Linked DNA regions of Homo sapiens: regions 1, 2 and 3 are each linked to region 4. The links come from fine-mapping of genetic effects on gene expression. A gene starts in region 4. Each other region holds a variant in brackets. All regions are shown on one strand. Distances are between the middles of the regions.

Region 1 (6,254 bases), 130 kb before region 4:
GTTTTTAAAGAAAAAAGGACAAATTAGGAGAGGGGGCAATTACAAAAATTGTTTGTTAAGAATTCTCATTGGTGTAGAGAAATAACTGATTAGTAATTGCTATACATTGTTGAACTATAGGGTATGAATTATGGTGTCTAGCATATGGCATTGTTAGGTTAGTTTATGGTTACTTGGTGGTGACAGTCTAAAGTCCATACAGCAGGCAGATTACTTAGCTCAAAGAGGGGAGTGAGAGATGACTACTTTCACATTTTAATGCCTCACTGGGCCCAGTAATTTAAAAGAGCTCACGTTCCTCAGATAAAAAGTTTCTTGTCTTTCTTGGTATACAGATGACCAATGCCAAATTTGTTTTTCAATACAATTTATATTGTGTGGTTATTTCACAAAATCATCCAATTCCATCTGGTTTTTGATACTTATTCTACCTCTTGGAAGGATATAACAACCTCATTGTCGAATACTCTGGTGGATAAATATTAAAAGTACTTTGTAGACATAAATAGCTCAAATTATTCCTCCTGAATCATGTCAGAAGAAAACTGCCTATGATTCAAAACTTTATGCTTTGATAACTCATTTCAAACAGAAAATAAAGAGGGCATCAATGTAAAAACAACAAGAACAATACCTAGAATAGGTTCTCAATTTCTTTAATTTTGTGAAATGTTAGAATTGAAAAAATAAATCAGAAGTTGTATAGTTCAACTTCCTGCCAGATGTAGAAATGGTCATACTCTTAAATGATGGGTTACCTCAACACGAACCCTTCTTTGATGGGGAGGACTCTTTATTGTGAGGTGGCCTTATCCAATTTCTAGTGGTTGTAATTTTTAAAGAAAAAGAATTTCAATAGGACACCTTTCCCCATTAAGAAAAATCTAGATATTCAATGATTCTTTTAAAAATCTAATTTAGTAAGTACTTACATAATATTTATTCAATTTTGTCCTATATAACAAACCATTGGTCATTCCAGGCCATGTGGAGATCTTGGTTAGTTTACATCTCATTTTCCTGCTTCACAACGTTAACTGCAGGTTGACCAAGCAAGATACAGTGTCAATTGACTCTTAACTCAGTGTCAGATTATACTTTGCAAGACTCAAAAAAGGGTGAGGAACGGAGAATGTTCTGTTTACGCGATCACTAACACTCTAATGTCATTTTAAAAATGAAATAATTTCACACCCGTAATCCCATCACTTTGGGAGGCCGAGGCAGGCAGATCACAAGGTCAGGAGATCGAGACCATCCTGGCTAACACGGTGAAACCCTGCCTCTACTAAAAATACAAAAAATTAGCTGGGCGTGGTGGCAGGCGCCTGTAGTCCCAGTTACTCGGGAGGCTGAGGCAGGAGAATGGCGTGAACCCAGGAGGCGGAGCTTGCAGTGGGCCGAGATCGCGCCACTGCACTCCAGCCTGGGCAGTAGAGCAAGACTCCGTCTCAAAAAAAAAAAAAAAAAAAAAAAAAAGAAGAAAGAATTGTTTTTTTTTTTCTCTTGCTCCTTGTTTAAAAGTACATTTTTAAGCCTGAAATTAAGCCTAATATTCAATATGACTATGAACACATCACTCAAAATCCATGGTAACAATTCAGTCTTTAATATTCATTCATGTCACAAATTTAATTGTACAAGTTAAAGGTAAACATTGTTTAATGGTACAAAAATATAAACAATGAATCACAAAAGACTTGTGGTAAAATATAGTCATGGGATACCTAACCATACCTGACATTTTTTGAGTGCTTTCTTTGTGTTAAATCATTTAATCCTCTCAACAACCTTAAGACAGGTAGTTTTATTAAACATATTTTATAGATGAGGAACTTGCACAGAGAGGTGCACTAATCCCTTTATTTAACAGATGAGGTATTTTTATTGCTAATTGATAACTATAAGCATACTGAATGAATAAAGAAGAATCAAATAGCAATAAAAAATGATGCAGGCGATATCGCCACTGATCCCACAGATAAAACAATAAAAAATGATAATAAACCAATAAAAAATGATACAGGGGATATCGCCACTGATCCCACAGAAATACAACTACCATCAGAGAATACTATAAACACCTCTACGCAAATAAACTAGAAAATCTAGAAGAAATGGAAAAATTCCTGGACACATACACCCTCCCAAGACTAAACCAGGAAGAAGTTGAATTTTTGAATAGACCAATAACACGTTCTGAAATTGAGGCAGTAATAAATAGCCTACCAACCAAAAAAAGCCCAGGACCAGATGGACTCAAAGCCAAATTCTACCAGAGGTACAAAGAGGAGCTGGTACCATTCCTTCTGAAACTATCCCAAATAATTGAAAAGGAAGGACTCCTCCCTAACTCATTTTATGAGGCCAGCATCATCCTGATACCAAATCCTGGCAGAGACACAACAAAAAACTTCAGGCCAGTATCCCTGACGAACATCAATGCAAAAATCCTCAATAAAATACTGGCAAACTGAATCCAGCAGCATATCAAAAAGCTTATCCACCACCATCAAGTCAGCTTCATCCCTGGGAAGCAAGGTTGGTTCAACATATGTAAATCAATAAATGTCATCCATCACATAAACAGAACCAATGACAAAAACCACATGATTCTCTCAATAAATGCAGAAAAGGCCTTCGAAAAAATGCAATATCCCTTTATGTTAGAAACTCTCAATAAACTAGGTATTGATGGAACATATCTCAAAATAATAAGAGTTATTTATGACAAACACAGCCAATATCATACTGAATGGGCAAAAGCTGGAAGCATTCCTTTTGAAAACCGGCACAAGACAAGAATGTACTCTTACCACTCCTATTCAACATAGTACTGGAAGTTCTGGCCAGGGCAATCAGGCAAGAGAAAGAAAGAAAGGATATTTAAATAGGAAGAGACAAAGTCAAACTGTCTCTGTCTGTAGACAACATGATCCTATATTTAGAAAACCCTATTGTCTCAGCCCAAAAACTCTTTAAACTGATAAGCAACTTCAGCAAAGTCTCAGAATACAAAATCTATATGCAAAAATCACAAGCATTCCTATACATCAATAGACAAGCAGAGAGCCAAATCATGAATGAACTCCCAATCACAACTGCTACAGAGAATAAAATACCTAGCAATACAGCTAACAAGGGAAGTGAAGGACCTCTTCAAGAACTACAAACCTTCTCCCTCTCCCTCTCCCTCTCCCACTCCCTCTGCCTCTCCCTCTCCCTCTTTCCACGGTCTCCCTCTGATGC[C/T]GAGCCGAAGCTGGACTGTACTGCTGCCATCTCGGCTCACTGCAACCTCCCTGCCTGATTCTCCTGCCTCAGCCTGCCGAGTGCCTGCGATTGCAGGCGCGCGCCGCCACGCCTGACTGGTTTTCGTATTTTTTGGGTGGAGACGGGGTTTCGCTGTGTTGGCCAGGCTGGTCTCCAGCTCCTAACCGCGAGTGATCCGCCAGCCTCGGCCTCCCGAGGTGCCGGGATTGCAGACGGAGTCTCCTTCACTCAGTGCTCATTGGTGCCCAGGCTGGAGTGCAGTGGCGTGATCTCGGCTCGCTACAACATCCACCTCCCAGCAGCCTGCCTTGGCCTCCCAAAGTGCCGAGATTGCAGCCTCTGCCTGGCCGCCACCCGGTCTGGGAGGTGAGGAGCGTCTCTGCCTGGCCGCCCATCGTCTGGGATGTGAGGAGCCCCTCTGCCTGGCTGCCCAGTCTGGAAAGTGAGGAGCGTCTCTGCCCAGCCGCCATCCCATCTAGGAAGTGAGGAGCGCCTCTTCCCTGCCGCCATCCCATCTAGGAAGTGAGGAGCGTCTCTGTCCGGCCGCCCATCGTCTGAGATGCGGGGAGCGCCTCTGCCCTGTCGCCCCGTCCGGGATGTGAGGAGCGTCTCTGCCCGGCCGCCCCGTCTGAGAAGTGAGGAGACCCTCTGCCTGGCAACCGCCCTGTCTGAGAAGTGAGGAGCCCCTCCGCCCAGCAGCCGCCCTGTCTGAGAAGTGAGGAGCCCCTCCGCCCGGCAGCCACCCCGTCTGGGAAGTGAGGAGTGTCTCCGCCCGGCAGCCACCCCGTCCGGGAGGGAGATGGGGGGGTCAGACCCTCGCCTGGCCAGCCGCCCCATCCGGGAGGGAGGTGGGGGGATCAGCCCCCTGCCCGGCCAGCCGCCCCGTCCGGGAGGCGAGGGGCGCCTCTGCCCGGCCGCCCCTACTGGAAAATGAGGAGCCCCTCTGCCCAGCCAGCCGCCCCGTCTGGGAGGGAGGTGGGGGGGTCAGCCCCCCGCCCGGCCAGCCGCCCAGTCCGGGAGGGAGGTGGGGGGGTCAGCCCCCCGCCTGGCCAGCCGCCCCGTCCAGGAGGTGAGGGGAGCCTCTGCCTGGCCGCCCCTACTGGGAAGTGAGGAGCCCCTCTGCCCGGCCAGCCGCCCCGTCCGGGAGGGAGGTGGGGGGGGGTCAGCCCCCCGCCTGGCCAGCCGCCCCGTCCGGGAGGGAGGTGGGGGGGGGGTCAGCCCCCCGCCTGGCCAGCCGCCTCGTCCGGGAGGGAGGTGGGGGGGGTCAGCCCCCCGCCCGGCCAGCCGCCCCGTCCGGGGGAGGGGGGGTCAGCCCCCCGCCCGGCCAGCCGCCCCATCCGGGAGGCGAGGGGAGCCTCTGCCCTGCCGCCCCTACTGGGAAGTGAGGAGCCCCTCTGCCCGGCCAGCTGCCCCGTCCGGGAGGGAGGTGGGGGGGGTCAGCCCCCCGCCCGGCCAGCCACCCCGTCTGGGAGGGAGGTGGGGGGGTCAGCCCCCCACCCGGCCAGCCACCCTGTCCGGGAGGTGAGGGGCGCCTCTGCCCGGCCGCCCCTACTGGGAAGTGAGGAGCCCCTCTGCCCGGCCAGCCGCCCCGTCCGGGAGGGAGGTGGGGGGGGTCAGCCCCCCGCCCGGCCAGCCACCCCGTCTGGGAGGGAGGTGGGGGGGTCAGCCCCCCACCCGGCCAGCCACCCTGTCCGGGAGGTGAGGGGCGCCTCTGCCCTGCCGCCCCTACTGGGAAGTGAGGAGCCCCTCTGCCCGGCCAGCTGCCCCGTCCGGGAGGTGAGGGGAGCCTCTGCCCTGCCGCCCCTACTGGGAAGTGAGGAGCCCCTCTGCCCGGCCAGCTGCCCCGTCCGGGAGGGAGGTGGGGGGGGTCAGCCCCCCGCCCGGCCAGCCACCCCGTCTGGGAGGGAGGTGGGGGGGTCAGCCCCCCACCCGGCCAGCCACCCTGTCCGGGAGGTGAGGGGCGCCTCTGCCCGGCCGCCCCTACTGGGAAGTGAGGAGCCCCTCTGCCCGGCCACCACCCCGTCTGGGAGGTTTACCCAACAGCTCATTGAGAACGGGCCAGGATGACAATGGCGGTTTTGTGGAATAGAAAGGGGGGAAAGGTGGGGAAAAGATTGAGAAATCGGATGGTTGCCGTGTCTGTGTAGAAAGAGGTAGACATGGGAGACTTTTCATTTTGTTCTGTACTAAGAAAAATTCTTCTTCCTTGGGATCCTGTTGATCTGTGACCTTACCCCCAACCCGGTGCTCTCTGAAACATGTGCTGTGTCCACTCAGGGTTAAATGGATTAAGGGCGGTGCAAGATGTGCTTTGTTAAACAGACGCTTGAAGGCAGCATGCTCGTTAAGAGTCATCACCACTCCCTAATCTCAAGTACCCAGGGACACAAACACTGAGGAAGGCCGCAGGGTCCTCTGCCTAGGAAAACCAGAGACCTTTGTTCACTTGTTTATCTGCTGACCTTCCCTCCACTATTGTCCTGTGACCCTGCCAAATCCCCCTCTGCGAGAAACACCCAAGAATGATCAATAAAAAAATAAATAAACCAAAAAAAAAAAAAAAAAAACCAAAAAAACAATACCAGGGCATAGGCCCCACCCTAAAACCATTAAATCAGAATCAGAATCAGAAATTCTGAGGGCAAAAACCTGGATCCAGACAAGTGTATCTAAAAGTTCTCCAGGTATTTCTCATGTGCAACCAGGATTAAGAATCACTAATGCCAGGTGCAGTGGCTCATCCCTGTAGTCCCAGCACTTTGGGAGGCCGAGGCGGGTGGATCACGAGGTCAGGAGGTCGAGACCAGCCTGGCCAATATTGTGAAACCCTGTCTCTACTAAAAATACAAAAACTAGCCGGGCGTGGTGGTGTGTGCCTATAGTCCCAGCTACTCGGGAGGCTGAGGCAGGAGAATCACTTGAACCCAGGAGGCGGAGGTTGCAGTGAGCTGAGATTTCGCCACTGCACTCCAGGCTGGGCAATA
Region 2 (6,254 bases), 95 kb before region 4:
TTTGCCTTCCTACCTTTCTTCTAAACTCAGTTTGCCATAATGGCTCCAAATGTGCCACAAATCCTATTATAATAAAAATATTCATAGTAAAATTCTGGTAGCCTAATCTAAGCAAAATTCCATTGCAATGAAAAATGTGGACAGATTACTGGCATTCCTGGTAGAATTTATTCTTACTTAATAAAGCACAGTTTAAACAGAGATTCAGTTTTTGAAAATACTTAACATGATATAACCAAGCCTATTCTTAGTCTTATCAGAAGATATCCACAAAAGTTTAATCTTAGAATCCATCCACATAATGATTTAATCAATCACATGCAAATAGCTCCCAAATTTACATTTTTAAAATCCCATGGCCTACAGGTATTTTCCAATTGGCTCTTGCTCCAATACCTAATGTTATCAGCTATACCCTTGTGTAGCTCTCCCCTCAAAGAAAACAAACACACATTCTCTTCTTAATTGCTACTTATCATCACCTTCTTTTCTCTAGTTTCCACAGTGTTCAGTTTGGGAGTGTGTTTAACTCTTTTTCTCTTGGTGCATTCCACATTAATCCTTTATTTAGCCCTCTAACACTCTGCCCCATCTTCTTCCAGTCTCGATTTTTCACTGCCACCACAGTAGTCTAGGTCTTCAGCTGTCTTTCTTTCAAGAATAAGGATAATTCGTTTGCTTATGCATTACTTTTGTTTTCTGCTATGTTCCACAAGTGGCATAAAATAACTATGAACCTATACTATGTATCACAAATCATACAAAGAGTGAACAATACAACAAAGATGAACAACACACCACCACCACAGTTCTTGCCCTTAATGAACTTTTAATGACACTTAAATTTCTAAAATGTCTAACCAGCTGGTTTTCCTACCTCCGATGTCACCCCACTTTAATGTCTTAAATATGGTTCCTGAAATTTTTTTTTGTCAAATTGTTTTTTTTAAGAGAGTCTCACTCTGTTGCCCAGATTGAATTGCAGTGGCTTAATCATAGCTCACTGCAGCCTCAAACTCCTGGGCTCAACTGATCATCCCACCTCAGCCTCCCAAGTAGTTGGGGCCAGAGGTGCGTGCCACCACAGCCACATAATTTTTTAATTTATTTTTTGTAGCTTGTTGCTACAAAATTGTTGCCTAGGCTGGTCTGGAATTCCTGCCTGGCCTCAAGTGATCCTCCTGCCTCCCAAAGTGCTGGGATGCTAGGTATGAACTACTGTCAAATATTATTAACATCACCCACTTAATCACACCAATGCCAATCATATTAAATTAAGAGAAGGTTATAATAATAAAATACCTAATATTATGAGCCATGTCTGAGAAAGTGTAATAAAAATATCATTTTTGATCATAAAGAAAAAAATCTACTGTTGGAGAAACCTTGGATTCTATATAGCTTTCAAATTTTAAATATACTGGAAAAAAGAATAGAAAAGAAATTCCAGAACATAGAAGAAATTTCAGAAGATGTTCTAAATTAGTATTAAGCACCAAAGAGATGATTTAGAAGATGGCAAAAAAAAGTTTTGAAAAAGATTAAAGTCAGTGTCCTAATTTTTTTTAAAACAATGAAAACTTGTAACTGTTCAATTACTGTTTTCATTGCCATATGGGGTACAACACATAGAAGAAAAAATTTGGAGAGCAGCATGAAAACTGATAATAACAAAATTCTATAAAGCAAACAAAAAAAATGACTCAAGTGTATAGTGATGGCATTTCAGTCCAGCAAGGCTGGGCTCATCATCAAGATTTCTGGTTTTGGATATACTGTGTCATCCACTGCTAATTAGTGGCTTCTGAAACAATGCTCACTGGTTTAGGAGAAGACCCTAACCTTGCTTGATTGTCAAGGCAAGAGTATCATGTGGCAAGTATGTTAAACATCTGATTATTTGATATGCTTTATGACAATTTAAATGATAAGAATTAAAAGTTTTCTGTTCTATGTTGAAATTCGTTGGTGGTCAAAAAAAATTCCTTTGGCTGGATTTATAAAATAAATCATAATGGTATTCTATTTTTGGAGCACCAGAGAAAAGACCAACTTCATAAACTTTAAAAATTATAATTTTTTATTTAGCCATAAAAGGAATGGAGTACTGATACATGCTACAACATGGATGAACCTTGAAAACATCGTGCTAAGTGAAAGAAGCCAGACACATATCATGTGATTCTGTTTATATTAAATATCCAAAATAGGCAAATCCCTAGGGACAGAAAGCAGCTTAGTGTTTCCCAGAGGCAGATGACTGCTTAAAGGGTACTGAGTTTCCTTTTGGGGTGAGGAAAAGGTTTTGAAACTAGATTCAGATGGTACTTGTACAACACAGTTAATGTACTAAATATCACTAATGGTAAATTTTATGCTATGTATATTTTACTACAATAAAAAATCTAATTTTTTTTTTTTTGAGGTGGAGTCTTGCTGTGTCGCCCAGGCTGGAGTGCAGTGGTGCAATCTCAGCTCACTGCAAGCTCCGCCCCCCGGGTTCACACCATTCTCCTGACTCAGCCTTCCGAGCAGCTGGGACTACTGGCACCCGCCACCAGGCCCAGCCAATTTTTTGCATTTTTAGTAGACACAGGGTTTCACCGTGTTAGCGAGGATGGTCTCGATCTCCTGACCTCATGATCCGCCTGCCTTGGCCTCCCAAAGTGCTGGGATTACAGGCGTGAGCCACCATGCCCAGCCTAAAAACTCTAATTTTTAACAGAGATTTGCACATTTGGAAAACATATCTGATGATTCGAAGTGAAACTTAAATGACAAACAACATTTGTAGACTTAAAAGTCTTCACTTACTTGAGTTGAAGAAGTTCTCAAAGAAAAGCTAGTGAAAACGGTTTCAAATTTAGGCAGAACCTCAAATATTATTCAAGTCTTTTGAATGAGGTAGCTGATAATTTCATACTATTGCAGTTGAAGATCTTGCCTGAAAACTTAAAAGACCTCTTTCTCATGCACTTCAATCTTTGCAAAAAGATATTAAAAAGGAATCTTTGAACTCAAGTTTGATTTATATGTCAAACACATTCCAGGAAACAATTTTGGAGAATTTTCAAAAAATATCCTTGGTTATTTCCAGCAAGTGAGCCGACCTTGCATGTCATCATCCCATTTTCATAAGCAAAGATTTATGAAGACGGTTTTTCTGAACTTTTAGCTATGAAAGCACAACAATGCTACAAACTTAATGACGATTGAGATGGTACTTTGACCTTTCACATTCTGGACAGAAAAGCCTGTAGCAAACAATCAGATTCAACATTCATTTTTATATTATGTGATCAAGGGGAAAATGAAGGCATAGTGTAAGATCAAGTTGCTTTTGGAGGTTGAAGGTGGACTTTGGTGTTTGAATCCTGCCACGCAACCCCCTTCCCTTCTAAAACTTTGGTTGACAAAAAATACTGACATAAGAACTAGTAACATGAAGCTAATTCTTTCTATGAGGTGCAAGTGTAGAGGTGAAGAAAACATGGGACAGAGACAGTATTCCATCTGCTCACCTACATTTCTCAGTCCACTTTGCAGTTAGCTTGTAGTCATGTGATTATTATGAATCTGATCACAGTGATGTAATTCACTACTCAGCTGACAGTTAAGAATCAATGTGTCGGCCGGGGGCAGTGGCTCAAGCCTGTAATCCCAGAACTTTGGGAGGCTGAGGTGGGCGGATCATGAAGTCAGGAGATTGAGACCATCCTGGCTAACACGGT[G/A]AAACCCCATCTCTACTAAAAATACAAAGAAAATTAGCCAGGCGTGGTGGTGGGAGCCTGTAGTCCCAGCTACTCGGGAGGCTGAGGCAGGAGAATGGTGTGAACCCGGAAGGCGGAGCTTGCAGTGAGCTGAGATTGCGCCACTGCACTCCAGCCTCAGCGACAGAGCGAGACTCCGTCTCAAAAAAAAAAAAAAAAAAAATCAATGTGTCACCCCATCCCATTTCCCCCTCTGTGGCACCTTGGAAGCCATGTGTTGCACTGGTGAAGCTATAACATGTCAGCCTTCCTGTCAATGTTGGTTCTGAGGGATTATTTGGAACAGTGGTCTTCAGTGATTTCTGCTGCATATGATGTGAATGAAAATACATTTTTGTGGTTAGGCCACTGGTATTTCAGGCTTAGTTACAACATCATAGATTAGCCCATCCTGATTAATATAAAAATTAGACTCTTTCCTCTAGCACCTTTGAGGAAACTGAAGGATCCTTTTTACATATGCAGATAAAAATGTGGAAACAGACAGGAACAGCACCGGTCTGCAATTCCCAGCGAGATTGATGCAGAAGGCGGGTGATTTCTGCACTTCCAACTGAGGTACCTGGTTCATCTCACTGGGACTGGTTGGAATGTGTGTGCAGCCCACGGAGGGCGAGGCGAAGCAGGGTGGGGCGTCACTTCACCTGGGAAGCACAAGGTGTCGGGGAATTTTCCCCCCTACCCAAGGGAAGCTGTGAGGGACTGAGCCTGAAGAACTCCAGCACAGACACTGCGCTTGTCCCATGGTCTTCGTAACCCACAAACCAGGAGATTCCCTCTGGTGACTACCCTACCAGGGCCCTGGGTTTCAAGCACAGAACTGGCTGGCCAATTGGGCAGACACCGAACTAGATGCAGGAGCTTTTTTTTTTTTCTTCTTTGCCATACCCCAGTGGCATGTGGAATGCCACTAAGACAGAACCATTTACTCCCCTGGAAAGGGGCGCTGAAGCCAGGGAGTCAAGTGGTCTGGCTCAGCGGGTCCCACTCCCACGGAGCCCAGGAAACTAAGATCCGCTGGCTTGAAATTCTCGCTGCCAGCACAGCAGCAATCTGAGATGCACCTGAGACAGTCGACCTTGGTCGGGGGGTTGCGGGGTGGGGCGGGGGGGTCGGCCATTGCTGAAGCTTGAGTAGGCAGTTTCACAGCCACAGGATAAACAAAGCTGCTGGGAAGTTCAAACTGGGTGGAGCCCACTGCAGCTCAGCAAGGCTGCGGTGGCCAGACTGCCTGATTGCCCCTCTCTGGACAGGGCATCTCTGTAAAACAGGCAGCAGCCCCAGTCAGTGGCTTATAGCAGACTTAAACATCCCTGCCTGATGGCTCTGAAGAGAGCAGCAGAACTCCCAGTGCAGCGTTCCAGCTCTGCTAAGGCTCAGTCTGTCTCCTCAAGTGGGTCCCTGACCCCTGTGTATACTGACTAGGAGACACCTCCCAGATGGGGCCGACAGACACCTCATACAGGAGAGCTCTGGCTGGCATCTGGCAGGTGCTCCGCTGGGTCGCAGCTTCCAGAGGAAACAACAGGCAGCAATCATTGCTGCTCTGCAGCCTCCGCTGGTGATACCCAGACAAACAGGGTCGGGAGTTAACACATCCACTCAAAGACCCCACTGGAAGGTCACCAACATCAAAGACAAAAGGTAGATAAATCCACAAAGATGAGGGAAAACCAACGCAAAACGGCTAACAATTCCAAAAACCAGAACGCCTTTCCTCCTCCAAAGGATCACAACCCCTCGCCAGCAAGGGAACAAAATTGGATGCAGAATGAGTTTGAAGAACTGACAAAAGTAGGCTTCAGAAGGTGGGTAATAACGAACAACTTTGAGCTAAAGCACCAGGTTCTAACCCAATGCAAGGAAGCTAATAACCTTGAAAAAAGGTTAGTTGAATTGCTAACTAGAATAACCAAGGTAGAGAAGAACATAAATGACCTGATGGAGCTGAAAAACACAGCACGAGAACTTCGTGTAGCATACACAAGTATTAATAGCCAAATCGATCAACCAGAAGAAAGGATATCAGCTGAAGATCAACTTAATGAAATAAAGCGAGAAGACAAGATTAGAGGGAAAAAAAAAAGGTACGAGTCAAGCCTCCAAGAAATATGGGACTACGTGAAAAGACCAAATCTACATTTGATTGGTATACCTGAAAGTGACAGGGAGAATGGAACTAAGTTGGAAAACACTCTTCAGGATATTATCCAGAACTTCTCCAACCGAGCAAGACAGGCCAACATTCAAATTTAGGAAATACAGAGACCACCACAAAGATACTCCTCGAGAAGAGCAACCCCAAGACACATAATCGTCAGATTCACCAAGGTTGAAATGAAATAAAAAATGGTAAGGGCAGCCAGACAGAAAGGTCAGGTTACCCACAAAGGGAAGCCCATCAGACTAACAGCAGCTCTCTCGGCAGAAACCCTACAAGCCAGAAGAGAGTGGGAGCCAATATTCAACATTCTTAAAGAAAAG
Region 3 (6,254 bases), 160 kb before region 4:
TGTAGATTCTGGTTATTAGCCCTTTGTCAGATGGATAGATTGCAAAAATATTCTCCCATTCTGTAGGTTGCTTGTTCACTCTGATGATAATTCCTTTTGCTGTGCAGAAGCTCTTTAGTTTAATTAGATCTCATTTGTCAATTTTGGCTTTTGTTGCCATTGCTTTTGGTGTTTTAGACCTGAAGTCTTTGCCTGTAATGTTAGTAGGTTGGCACAAAAGTAATTGCGGTTGAGCTGGGTGCAATGGCTCACACCTGTAATCCCAGCACTTTGGGAGGCTGAGGCGGGTGGATCATCAGAGGTCAAGAGTTTGAGACCAGCCTGGCCAACATGGTGAAACCCCATCTCTACTGAAAAACACACAAAAATTAGCCGGGGTTGGTGGCACACACCTGTAATCCCAGCTACTCGGGAGGCTGAGGCAGGAGAATTGCTTGAACTGGAGGGACAGAGGTTTGCAGTGAGCCAAGATTGCACCACTGCACTCCAGCCTGGGCAACAAAGTGAGACTCTGTCTCAAAAAAAAAAAAAAAAAAGTAATTGTGGTTTTTGCCATTACACTCAATGGCATTATGTCATTCCTTCCTCATTCATTAGATAGAATATTTCTTTTCCTTTTCTTTTCTTTTCTTTTCTTTTTTTCTTTCTTTTTTTGAGACAGAATCTTGCTCTTGTCACCCAGGCTGGAGTGCAATGGTGCGATCTTGGCTCACTGCAACCTCCGCCTCCCAGGTTCAAGCAATTCTCCTGCCTCAGCCGCCGAGTAGCTGGGGTTACAGGTGCACACCAACACGCCCAGCTAATTTTTGTATTTTTTATTAGAGACGGGGTTTCACCATGCTGACCAGGCTGGTCTTGAACTTCTGGCCTCAAGTAATCTACCCATCTCGGCCTCCCAAAGTGCTGGGATGCTAGAATATTTATAACTAGAGCATCCCCCCTTATCTATTATTTCGTTATCCAGTGGTCCAGCTCACAAAGGAAAGGCAGGATAAATATTTGTTTCTTTCTCTTTATCAATTAAAATAAGTTGGTTACCTATCATCCTCAAAAGGTGAGCAGTTAATTTTTTAGGATCATTAAAACTCATAGACTTAAACATATTTTAAGTGTTTTGATCTGCTGAAGTTATCATCCTTATTGAGCTTACATTGTCCCATCTGTGTCCAGTGGCAGCTTCTGCAAGTTGGCTCTTGAGTCTTTTTGACATGACCTCTATAGTCTTTGGAAGCTTCCTTGCTATTGTACACCAAGATGTTCCATGAGTTCATGCTGATACTTGGAATTCAAAGTCAGGACTGCAGAGTTTTTACTTAAAACTTCTTTCTTACACAGGCATAGCCTTTCTTCTGAGAGTCCAGGTTCTCAGGGACCTAAGAAATATAAAACTAGAATATCACACAATTAGTTTGCATTGTCTTACATTACATATACAACAGTCTCAGTGAAATCACCTATTTTATCAACACACATCTTATTGAAAAAGTTAAAAAATTATTTGCATAGGCACTTTCCACGTTCTTTAGTTGTATGTACATTTTCAGATGATGTGTCCAGTACATAGTATATACTCTCTCCTCTTTAACCTCATGTAGTCTTAGTTTTACAATAGGTATTTAATGCTCAATGCCAGTCCTTAGGTTGACTTCTCTCTAGTCATTTGGATGTCCAAAATTTGTTGTCTAGAAAATTCCTAGGAAATGTGCAAGAAAACAATATAGAATGCCTGTGTCTCACAGTGTTTCCCACAGAGGATGGTGTCAAACTTAGATTTTCGCCAACCTAAGTGAGAAGTGGTATCTTGGTGTAGTTTTAATTGTATTTCTCTTATTATGAGTCAGACTGAACATTTTTTTTTTTCATGTCTAAGTGTTACTGGAAAGGAGTCCTGATCCAGACCCCAAGAGAGGGCTCGTGAAAGAAAGAATTAGGGGTGAGTCCATAGGGTAAAGTGAAAGTAAGTTTATTGAAGTAAAGAAAGAATAGCACTCCATAGACAGAGCAGGGTATTCCCAAAAGCAAGAGGAGGAACATGTTCGCCTTAGGTGCCATGCTTGTTTGTACATAAGATAACAAAGCAAAAAATCATGGGGAGATGTATTCTACTACAAGGGTTTGTCACAAAAGATTGCTAATCTTTGTATAACTGCTGTCTTCTGCGATAATCTATATTATTATGTTGAAAGCAAAACTTATTCTTAAACTAAAAGTGCTTTTGTTTTTAAGATATTGGGACACCAGGACATTTCCTGGGTCTGTTATATCCTGGGTCTGTTAAGTCCTGGGTCAATTCAGTAAACATTATTAACGTGTTCCTTTAACATTATTAACCTATTTCTTTTAACCGTAAACATCCTTTGGCTATGAATGGCTAACCTGTTGGGAATGTGGCCCAGCAGGTCTCAGCTTCATTTTACCCAGCCAGTCCATGTTCAAGATGGAGTTGCTCTGGTTTGAACACCTCTTACACAATGACCATTTCTTTTTCTGTGAGCT[C/G]TCTGTTAATATCCTTTACCCATTTTTCTATTAGATTTTGGCCTTCTGCCTCCCACCATTTTAGGACTTCTTTCCATATTAGGGATATTACCCCTAATACGAATATAAAGGGGTATGTATGTGATATAAGTTGCAATATCTCTTCCTAGTTTGTCATTTGTTGCCTGACATTACTTATAGGGCCTTTTTGCCATGTGACGCTATATGTAATACCTTGTTGGGCTAGCTCTTCAGACACTCCTTTCTTTTCGGATTTTTTGGGCTATACTTATCTGTGTTCTCATTTTAAATGTATATCCAATTTTCCAAGCTCTAGAAAAGAATTGGCATTTTTGTGGGAATCATGTTAAATGTATTAATTAACTTACGGGGCATTGATGTCTTTACGATGTTGACTCTTCTCATCTAAGTACGTTTTCCTGTTCCATTTGCTCTGGTCTACCTTGGACCTTTCAGTGAAAGAGGCTTTTGTTTTTTTTGAGACGGAGTCTCACTCTGTCGCCCAGGCTAGAGTGTGATGGCATGATCTTGGCTCACTGCAGCCTCCGCCTCCCGAGTTCAATTGATTCTCCTGGCTCAGCCTCCTGAGTAGCTGGGATTACAGGCGCCCACCACTGTGCCCGGCTAATTTTTATAATTTTAGTAGAGACGGGGTTTCACCATGTCGGCCAGGCTGGTCTCTAACTCCTGACCTCATGTGATCCACCTGCCTCGGCCTCCCAAAGTGCTGGGATTACAGGTGTGAAACATTGTACCCAGCCAGTAGAAGTGTTTTAAAGGTGTTCTTTATATAAATTTTATATATTTCTTAAGTTCATGCTTGGATATTTTATCTTTTTTGTTATTAGCATAAAAAGGGTCTTCTCGACAGTGTGGTGATTACTCAAGGATCTAGAACTAGAAATATCATTTAACCCAGCCATCCCATTACTGGGCATATACCCAAAGGACTATAAATCATGCTGCTATAAAGACACATGCACACGTATGTTTACTGTAGCACTATTCACGATAGCAAAGACTTGGAACCAACCCAAATGTCCATCAATGATAGACTGGATTAAGAAAATGTGGCACATATACACCATGGAATACTATGCAGCTATAAAAAATGACGAGTTCATGTCCTTTGTAGGGACATGGATGAAGCTGGAAACCATCATTCTCAGCAAACTATCTCAAGGACAGAAAACCAAACACCGCATGTTCTGACTTATAGGCGGGACTTGAACAATGAGAACACTTGGACACAGGGTGGGGAACATCACACACTGGGGCCTGTCGTGGGGTGGCAGAAGGAGGGAGGGATAGCATTAGGAGATATACCTGATATAGATGACAAGTTAATGGGTGCAGCACACCAACATGACACATGTATACATATGTAACAAACCTGCACGTTGTGCACATGTACCATAGAATTTAAAGTATAATAATGATAAAAAATAATAATAAAGGATCTTCTCTTGCGTTGTATCTTCTAACTAGTTATTGCTTATATCTATGAAGGCTATTGACTTCTGAATATCAAAGGCTTTTGAGTTAAGGACTACTATGATGGCATTGTACAGAAATTATTACAGAAGTTATAAATAATTTGGTATTTCAAATGAGAAATTCATCCATCAACCAAGGCAGGGTCAGGAAGGAAAGGAAGAAACAAATAGATATGTATTTCAAAGGTATGGGACTTAGAAACTCATTTGATGTTGAGGAAAGGGTGAAGGAAAGGGCATGTGAGTTTTCTTTTTTCTTTTTTTTCTGTTACCCAGGCTGGAGTGCAGTGGTGTGATTTTGGCTCACTGCAACCTCAGCCTCCTGGGTTCAAGTGATTCTCCTGCCTCAGCCTCCCAAGTAGCTGGGATTACAGGCGCCCACCACCATGCCTGGCTAATTTTTGTATTTTTAGTAGAGATGGGTTTTTGCCATGTTGGCCAGGCTGGTCTCAAACCCCTGGCCTCAAGTGATCCACCCACCTCAGCCTCCCAAAGTGCTGGGATTACAGGCGTGAGCCAGCATGCCTGGCTGTGTGAGCTTTCAACTGGTAACTGCAGTGATAACATTGTTAACAGAAAATAGGAAGCGGAGAAGGTTGGAGAAAAAGAGAAGGTGTGTCAGTTTGGGCATTTAGATTTTAAGACTGGAAGTAAATAGAGAGGTCAAATGTGAAAATTTAGATTTGGAGGCCATCAATAGAGCTGTAGGAGTTTCTGAAATGACTAGGGAGAGAAAGTAGAATAATAAGAGAAGAACCAATGACAGAATGTCAAAGAATTTTTATATTTAAATAATAGGTAGAGGAAGCTGGTCCCTGAAAGAGTCCAAGAATGAAGGATCTGAGAGGTAGAAGGTGAATGAGAATACAAAGTCATAGAAACCAAACGAACAGGGACTTGGCTTATCAATTATGAAATTACCAGTACTTCTTAAGGCAGCAATCTCAGAACTGTTATGAAGATGAGCTAAGACTATGAAGGATTCAGTAAAGAGATATGTTAACTAGGAATGGGTTTGTGGTAGGAAATTTATACTGTGTGTTTCAAACACGTGAAGTCCAAATACAAGAGATCTCGTGATTCAAATAATCTATGTTAAACAAATATGCTCAGATATAGCTTGGCTTAAATTAAAATGGTTACTAACACTTATTTCTTGTTTATTGCCATTAATTCAAAGTTCAGTGCCTTTCTGAATATGGATTTATACTTTACCTTCTGACACATGTGTATGTGGTGGGGGTAGAAGGAGGCTTCAGGTAAAATATAACATTTAAGTGCTAAAAAGGACAATAATTTTTCCCACTCTCAGATAAATGTCTGTTCTTTCACACAGGTATTTATGATAATGATAACCTCTTAGACTTAGGGTTTACAACATATTGTCATATTTCACAGAGACTCACAAGATTCTGGGAAGTAACTAGGACAGGGATCATTATTTCTTAAAGTGCAGAGACGGTAGAAGAATGATAGAACCGGGTCCAGATCTAAGATGTTCTTGACTCCTAGCCTATAGGCATATGTTATGAGTCAGGGTGGAGTGTAGAAAATGTTTATTCTAGGTATTTTAAACAGAAAAGGATTTAATGCAGAGGTTTAAGTGCTTATAAATACAGTTGGCCCTTCATACCATAGGTTCCTCATCTGTAGATTGAACCAACCACAGATTGAAAATATTTGGGATAAAAAGCCAATAAATAATACAACAAGAAAAATATACCAATAAAAATAATAAAGTATAACCACTATTTACATAGTATTTACACTGCATTTTTTTTTTTTTTGAGATGGAATCTTTCTTTGTTGCCCAGGCTGGAGTGCAGTGATGCGATCTTGGCTCACTGCAACCTCCGCCTCCTGGGTACGAGCAATTCTCCAGCCTCAGCCTCCCAAGTAGCTGGGATTACAGGAGTGCACCACCATGCCTGGCTAATTTTTGTATTTTTAGTTGAGACAGGGTTTCCTCATGTTGGCCGAGCTGGTCTCGAACTCCTGACCTCAAGTGATCCACCTGCCTCAGCCTCCTAAAGTGCTGGGATTACAGGCCTGAGCCACCGTGCCTGGCTTGCATTAGGTTTTATAAGTAATCTATAGATGACTTAAAGTATACAGGAGGATGTGCATAGGCTATATGCAAATGCTATGCCATTTGCCATTTTATGTAAGGGACTGGAGCATCTGCAGATTTCATTATCCCTAGGGATCCTGGAACCAATCCCTGCCCAGATACTGAGGGACAACTGTAAGTGGAAAAACAGG
Region 4 (6,254 bases):
AACTTATTGTCCAAAGGCCTACATCACATACTATATTTATATTTGTAGAGTAGGAGGACAAGTACAGACTTGTTTGTGATATGCAAGCCCAGTAATTTAGAAACTATGATAAACCAAATGCAAAACCCATTTGATAATTTTTAAATGTCACATTTCTTTTGAGTGTAATTTTAAACTCTCATTAATAATGGCACCAAAGGATGATTCAGGAAGTAGTACAAAACTGATAGTCTCTCAGAATATTATCAGGTGATAAAATAATTTGTAAAATAATATTATTGTCTCAAAAATGTGAAATATCTAACTGCAATCATCTATTAAAAATGATTTAATACATATATACTATTTCTTAGGAATATATGGTAGTAAAGGAGTTTTCACTTTTGATATCTTTATTTTACATAGTCACTTGATGAATAATATAAATCCATTCTTGTGGAGCAGGGGGTATGACACTATTAAGTATATTTACTAATTTTGTTTATTATCTACAAATGTTGTTTATTCCGAAATTTTAAGTATATAAAAATCATTTTTGCAAATAGGATTTCTAAAGTTGATCATTAGATGCCAATAAGTGTATCATTACAATTTTAAAACAAAAATATAAATTTTCATATTTTGGGATTCACGTGTTTGCTGCCCATTATTTTTTCAGAGCAAGTACCAAAAACTGGAGTGCACTCTACTTCAGAAGTTTTTCTCATGTTAAAGTCAGAGCAGTTAGGCTGTAATGGATGTGCCAATATAAAAAAAAATTAAATTTACACATTATTTGCCAAAAAGTGCACTCGACTATCATCATTATTCAAACATTTCAGTCAGTTGCCTCCACAACTCACTTATTTTAAAACTATAAAGTGAAGATTCCTTTCCCCTCTTGTTCTCATAATCAATTAAAATATACATTACTCATTCAACTTTTAAAATTTGTCTCTCTTAAAAGATTTTAGTCCATTAACTTGGATTTCCCACATCTGAATGTAAAACCAAGGTGCTTAATTCAATTTAATGATGATTTCAGAAACACAAAGTTACGTCACGTTACTAGAGGTTAAAAACACACACACATACACACTGGTTTTGTGAAAACCTTGATGGCAAGCAAGATATTCACCATCTCTTCTTTTAAATTATAGCTTTAAAAAGGGGGTGAGGGTATCCATTGAAGAATAAAGCCTGCTTTCTGTCACACACACACACACACACCCCAATCATATCTATCAGACCTATTCAAGTTGCCACAACATGACTATTGTCAAAGCCAAAAAAATTCTCCTTTAAAATATTTAAACTTCATTTTAAAATTAAAACTGAAAGCAAGATACTCAACTGCCAACTACTGTTGATGAAACTATTAAAGCCTGCACTGACCTACTTCATATCAGCATCATGACGGCATGGATGCATGCCAAGAAAATAATGAAAATTACTATATAACTAACCTAAATCTTGTATTTAAAAATTGTCACTTTAAAAATGTGCAAATACTGTTCATGCAACGCCAGTTGCTTTACGATATGTTTTCAAAATGAGAAAATGAGTTTTGATATTTTAGTACTCATATTCAATGATGGCCCTGCAAAGATTTCATTTCCATTTTCAAAATCAAGGCTTTTTAAAATACCATATAAAATTCTTTTTAAACTTCTATTAAAAGCAATCTTAGACCAAATTCCAAATATTACTTTCCATTTAAAAAATATTGCTACACTTAAAAAAGGCAGTTAATGAAGCATCCTACAAAACAATGCAAGTTCATGTTCAAAGAATATTGCAATGGCTCTAACAGTGGATGGACTTAGTGTATTTAATTATTAAAAGATTCCCACTAGACTTTAGGAGTTTAATGCTGAAATATTGGAAATTTTCATACAAGAAAGTAAAATAGCGAAAGATATTCCATCAATGGTTTCTTTTAAAAAGACATACAAATGGCAAGACATTTGATTCCCTATATTTTAATTTAAAAAAAAACCACTTTGTTGTAAACTACCATCTTAAAATATTTTATACTAAAAAAGCACTTTCTTCACAATCAATGCAAAGAATAAACTCCCTGAAAAAGAAATTTAATATTAGGATAAGGGAGGCAAAAACATTCAGAAATAGCAGCTAACCCAACTGAAAGGAAGAGACACATTAGGTTTTGTGCTGCATATTAATATTCTTACGCACAGTATCTGTTTGGTGAAAATTCACAATACACTTCTTCCTCCTTCTATGGCTGCAAAAAGGAGTAAACACATTTCACATTCTCCAGTTCCAAATTCATGCCACCATCATGCAATATGACTTAATTTCGACCCATATTTCTGTTACAATGAGTGAAAAAATAAAACCAAAAAACTTGTTTATCTGCACTCACAATTGAGGAAGGGGTAAAAGCATTTTTTAGCTAAGAAGACAGGGGCTGATTGATGCAAAGTCCGCACACCTCCAGAGATCCTACAAATGTGCACCCGACTGGGGAAAGCCACATTCAATGAATGCATCAGCCTCCTCCTCCGCTCCCCCCGCCCGCCGCCCCCCACCCACTTTGCAGCAGAAATGTGCCTGGGCTTTTTCACGCGAGCGATGGAGGATCCTCTTACCAGATGGAGTTCTTGATCTTGTGTTGCAGCGCGCTGGCCTCTGTCCCTGGCAGCCCGGGCACAAGGGCTGGCAGGGCCACCCCCGAGTTGGGGGCGCTGGGGGGAAGCTGCTGATGGGCATCAGGCTGCTGTGGTGGCGGCTGTTGTTGTTCCTCTGCCATCGCTGCAGAGGGGTGGGAGGGAGGGAGGGAAAGATGGGGGCGCGGGGAAGGGTGAGGGAAGAGACCGGGAGGGGAGGACGAAGGGGGGAGAGGAGGAGGGGGAGGGGGAGGGGAAGAGGAGGAGGAGGAGGAAGGAAGCTGGATAAGCTAGGCCTTTACCCCAGGGCTCGAGTGAGTCGCTTTCGCCTGCCGCCTGGGGAACATCACCGGGGAGACCAGCGGCTCCTCACGGCCGGGGCGCTTCACCGCGGGAGAGGCATGGCGGCGCCCCTCAGCCCCCCGCTGGCGCCGCCGCCTCCTCCCGTCAGCGGCCGGGGCTGTGGGGGGGTGAGATGGGGGCGTTTGAAGACGAAGTGGGGGGGGCAGGCTCCCCCCAAAATCCAAGAAGAACGGTTGCTCAGGGATTTGGCGGCCAAGCCTTCCTTCCTTGTCCCCGGGGCTTTCTACTGCCGGGTCCCCGTGCTGCTGCAGCCCCAGGCACCGCTCCACGCCACTCCCCACGCCGCCGCCGCCGCCGCCGCTCGCTCCCGGCCCCGCCGCCGCCGCGGCCGCCGCTGCCCTGCCAGCCCCGGAGGCAGCCCAGTGCGCGCAGCCGCACTGCGGCCCGGCGCAGACCGCACAACACCTACCGCTCCGCCGGGGGGCGTGGACCAGGGTGTGCGGGCCGCGGGCGCGACGGGCCGGGATGGGGGCGCACGGCGCGGAGGGCGGCGCGGGCCAGCGGGCCAGGGAAGCGCGCCGCTGGGGGCCGGGAGGAGTCCGGCCCGGCTGGTGGAGAGCAGGAAAACGTGGGGGAGGTGCTGGCGAGAGAAAGAGAACTTGCGTGAGGAGGAGGAGGAGAAACCAAATTTAATAATATTTGGCGTGGAAATGGGATTTGGGCGGGGGAGGCATCTTCAAAGCAAGTAAAGAGAAATCAACATTATCCCCCTTCCCCTGCACATGCATGTGAGGATTACTTCCTCCCTGAGTAAATGAAGAGAACTGAAGCAGGTAAGACGATAAACTGACTTTTCAGAAGCCCCCAAAGAAGAACACCCGTTGGAATTAACCACCCTTTAGGTAATTCGGTCTTGAACGGAAATCGCGAGTCAGGAGCTGGGTTGAGTGCTCCTCGGTCGGGCATTCAAAGCCCTCCAAATCTGGCCCCACTTTAACTATCCAATCATAGCGGCCTCCATCCCCCTGCAAGAACTCCCGGCTCCAATCAGGGAAGTCTCCATGCCATCCTCAACGCGCAGCAGATTCATTCTTCCTTCGTGCCTTTGCTCATGCTGTTCCCCTCCACCTCCCCACCCCACCCCACCCCCTTTCCAGGAATGCCCTCCCTCCTTTATACCGCTCCCAATTCCACCCAGGCTCTAAAGCATAGCTCAAGTCGCGGCTTGTCAGGGTCCCTGCAGCCAAGGCCACTGCCTGCCTCTGAAAGAAACGCATGTAGTACTCACAACATGGAGGCTCAGGCGTCAGCCACGAGCTCCTTCCTTTGGAGCCCGTTGAACACCCGCCCTCCCCCCGCAGACTCCGCACCATTCCCCCCCTTCCCATTCATACCTAAATGATAGCTTTGCCACAAATAAGTCAGTCTCCTTTAAGAGCAGAAGAATTGGCTTTTCTAGGTGGGGCTGATCAGGGAGGCTGCGTGGATGTAGAATACAACAGCCAAGGCCTCTGGCACCAAATGGAACAGCTGTTCAGCTCACACTGACCTTTCTTTGGGCCCGTGGGTGTTATGAGCCCTTCAGCTTTAACTTTTCTGATAGAGTGTCTATCAGGTTTCTACCTGTTAGATCCTCTGGCCACTTTCCTGCTGTGTGTGGACTTTGGGCTGTGGGGCTCTGCCACCTTTTAGACTCCTAGTGGATGGTGAATCTGATTGGCTTGGGTTGCCTGGCCTTTGAGTTCTCAGTTCCCTGCCTTGGCCTGAAACCCTCTTGCTTTTGTCCACTGTGCCCTCTCTCCTGGCCCACAGACTTAAGGCCCAGACTCACACTGAATGCTTGCACGTGGTGAGGGTTGAGGGTGGGGGTGCAGGGAGGAAGAACACCTGTGTGCAAAATAAGCCGCCCCCCCGCCCCCGGGGCCTCTTGGATTACGCTGTGCTCCAACTACCCATTGCACGAGTTGCATCACACAAATGAGCCCCCTTTTCCATACTCTAAGGTCTCTATTAGCTTAGCCACTTTAGGAAACTATAGGTGGTTTACGACATTCATTTTGCATACATATCTTCATGTGGGTGTGTAAAGACAGTATTTTTGTGGACCTAATTGATAGACATGGTGTGCACTAGACAGAAGCTTTGAAGGATAAAAATAGCTAATGTTTGTTGAACACTTTGTGTGCCAGACTAGCACTTTCCATACATTATCATAGTTATTCCTCCCCAAGAGTGTATAATGTAGGTATTATTAGTCTCCCTCTGTTACAGATGAAATGGAAGCTTAGGTTAATTAACATTCTTAAAATTACCCAATTAGTAAATGCAGGAGCCAAAATTTGAGTCCTGGAAGTTTAATTCCAGAGCCTGCAAGCTATGCTGAAACTGGAATTACGCTGAAAAATCTTGAATGTAGGTATATATATACGTGTGTGTGTGTATGCCCTATATCACGTTGAGGAAAGTTGCCAAGTTCCCCAAGGTTCTAATTTTTTGCCTTGCCAAGAGAGAATGATGGCTCCAAGTTGCAACACCCTGGGAGGGGGAGATCCTTAGGAAGTGGGAGAGTCATCGAGGGGGTAACGTATCTAAGGTCTGCCAAAGGCCTTAAGAAAAGGAAGCCGAGAACCAAGACGTTTTATAAAAAGTTCGCTACCGGGTGTCACACAGGCTGGCTTCCCAAGTGCAACTTCTGAGAGTTTTTAATGGGTTCCATAAAAGAGCCAGGTCACCCCAGCAGCCACTAGAGGGCTCACGAAGCTGCAGCCGCGGGCTGCCCTCTAGCGGCGGTGCTGACCGGAGTGTGGTGGTAAACCTTTTCCGGCCTTCCAGGACCTACAGGGAGTTGAAGGAGACCAGCAATGGGAGGGGTGGCAGAGAGTATCAGACTGAGGAGACCTTATTGCCAGAGTGAGATACCCTTTCAGGGAGGAAAGGGGCAGCCCTCACTACTCACTTAACATCTGGGAGTACAGTGGGTGTTTTGTTCCAGTCTTCAGAGAAGACTGTGAATAAAATCATGACATTAAGAAATCTGATGAAGTTACCCAAAATTTTGAGTGTGGACTCAAGCCAAACCCAGGGACCCTGAATAAAGGCAGGAGTGTAGCCATGTGCTTCTCATATTATGTGGGTTCCTTTGATTGTGCAACCCTGTACTGAGGACCCTCAAGGACCCAGAATCAATGTGGCTCATTTTCTCTGAGCATCATTTTGACTCTCTGGTAAATAAGGTAAGACATTGTAGTAAGCATGACTTTTTAAGATAACACACAAGTATTACCCAACCCTGAGGAGCCTAAGTTTATTCTCTACTGGGAAAGTGTACACCAGAGGAAA

Direction of the effects. Positions count from the first base shown, and alleles are read on the strand shown. Sizes are in standard deviations (SD) of each study's normalised expression.
For the expression in thyroid of the gene that starts at base 3,349 in region 4, allele T in region 1 goes with a lower level than allele C (moderate effect, 0.46 SD a copy in GTEx).
As copies of A replace G in region 2, the expression in subcutaneous fat of the gene that starts at base 3,349 in region 4 goes down (moderate effect, 0.64 SD a copy in GTEx).
With allele G in place of C in region 3, the expression in CD8 T cells of the gene that starts at base 3,349 in region 4 is lower (moderate effect, 0.42 SD a copy in Kasela 2017).

Evidence for each region. PIP is the estimated chance that this variant, and not a neighbour inherited with it, causes the effect. A credible set is the group of variants that fine-mapping cannot tell apart.
Region 1: its variant is the best candidate, but not a certain one, in a credible set for the expression of RFX7 in thyroid (GTEx, PIP 0.81).
Region 2: its variant is the best candidate, but not a certain one, in a credible set for the expression of RFX7 in subcutaneous fat (GTEx, PIP 0.55).
Region 3: its variant is the best candidate, but not a certain one, in a credible set for the expression of RFX7 in CD8 T cells (Kasela 2017, PIP 0.65).

What each region holds. Positions count from the first base shown.
Region 1 is chr15:56,105,844-56,112,097 of GRCh38, forward strand. All of the region lies in intron 5 of RFX7 (regulatory factor X7), which reads right to left. Among named protein-coding and RNA genes, the nearest start is that of NEDD4, 120 kb to the left of the region's middle. The variant C/T (reference allele first, on the strand shown) is at 3,250.
Region 2 is chr15:56,145,170-56,151,423 of GRCh38, forward strand. The region is part of intron 3 of RFX7 (regulatory factor X7); the gene reads right to left. It overlaps LOC124903498 (a long non-coding RNA gene), which reads left to right and starts at 4,236. Exons shown (of 2, transcript XR_007064648.1): 1 at 4,236-4,328. RefSeq lists a silencer at 4,682-4,976. The variant G/A (reference allele first, on the strand shown) is at 3,732.
Region 3 is chr15:56,080,071-56,086,324 of GRCh38, forward strand. No RefSeq gene overlaps it. Among named protein-coding and RNA genes, the nearest start is that of NEDD4, 90 kb to the left of the region's middle. The variant C/G (reference allele first, on the strand shown) is at 2,497.
Region 4 is chr15:56,240,531-56,246,784 of GRCh38, forward strand. It overlaps RFX7 (regulatory factor X7), which reads right to left and starts at 3,349. Exons shown (of 10, transcript NM_022841.7): 1 at 2,915-3,349; 2 at 2,595-2,757. The coding sequence starts at 2,755. LOC124903569 (laforin-like) reads right to left here and starts at 4,288. Exons shown (of 3, transcript XM_047433428.1): 1 at 4,204-4,288; 2 at 3,453-3,649; 3 at 2,821-3,352. The coding sequence starts at 4,288. The coding sequence ends at 2,903. It also overlaps a transcript of TEX9 not described here. RefSeq lists silencers at 2,875-2,944, 3,035-3,094, 3,245-3,534, 4,025-4,074 and enhancers at 3,321-3,966, 3,967-4,612, 4,325-4,374, 4,613-5,258.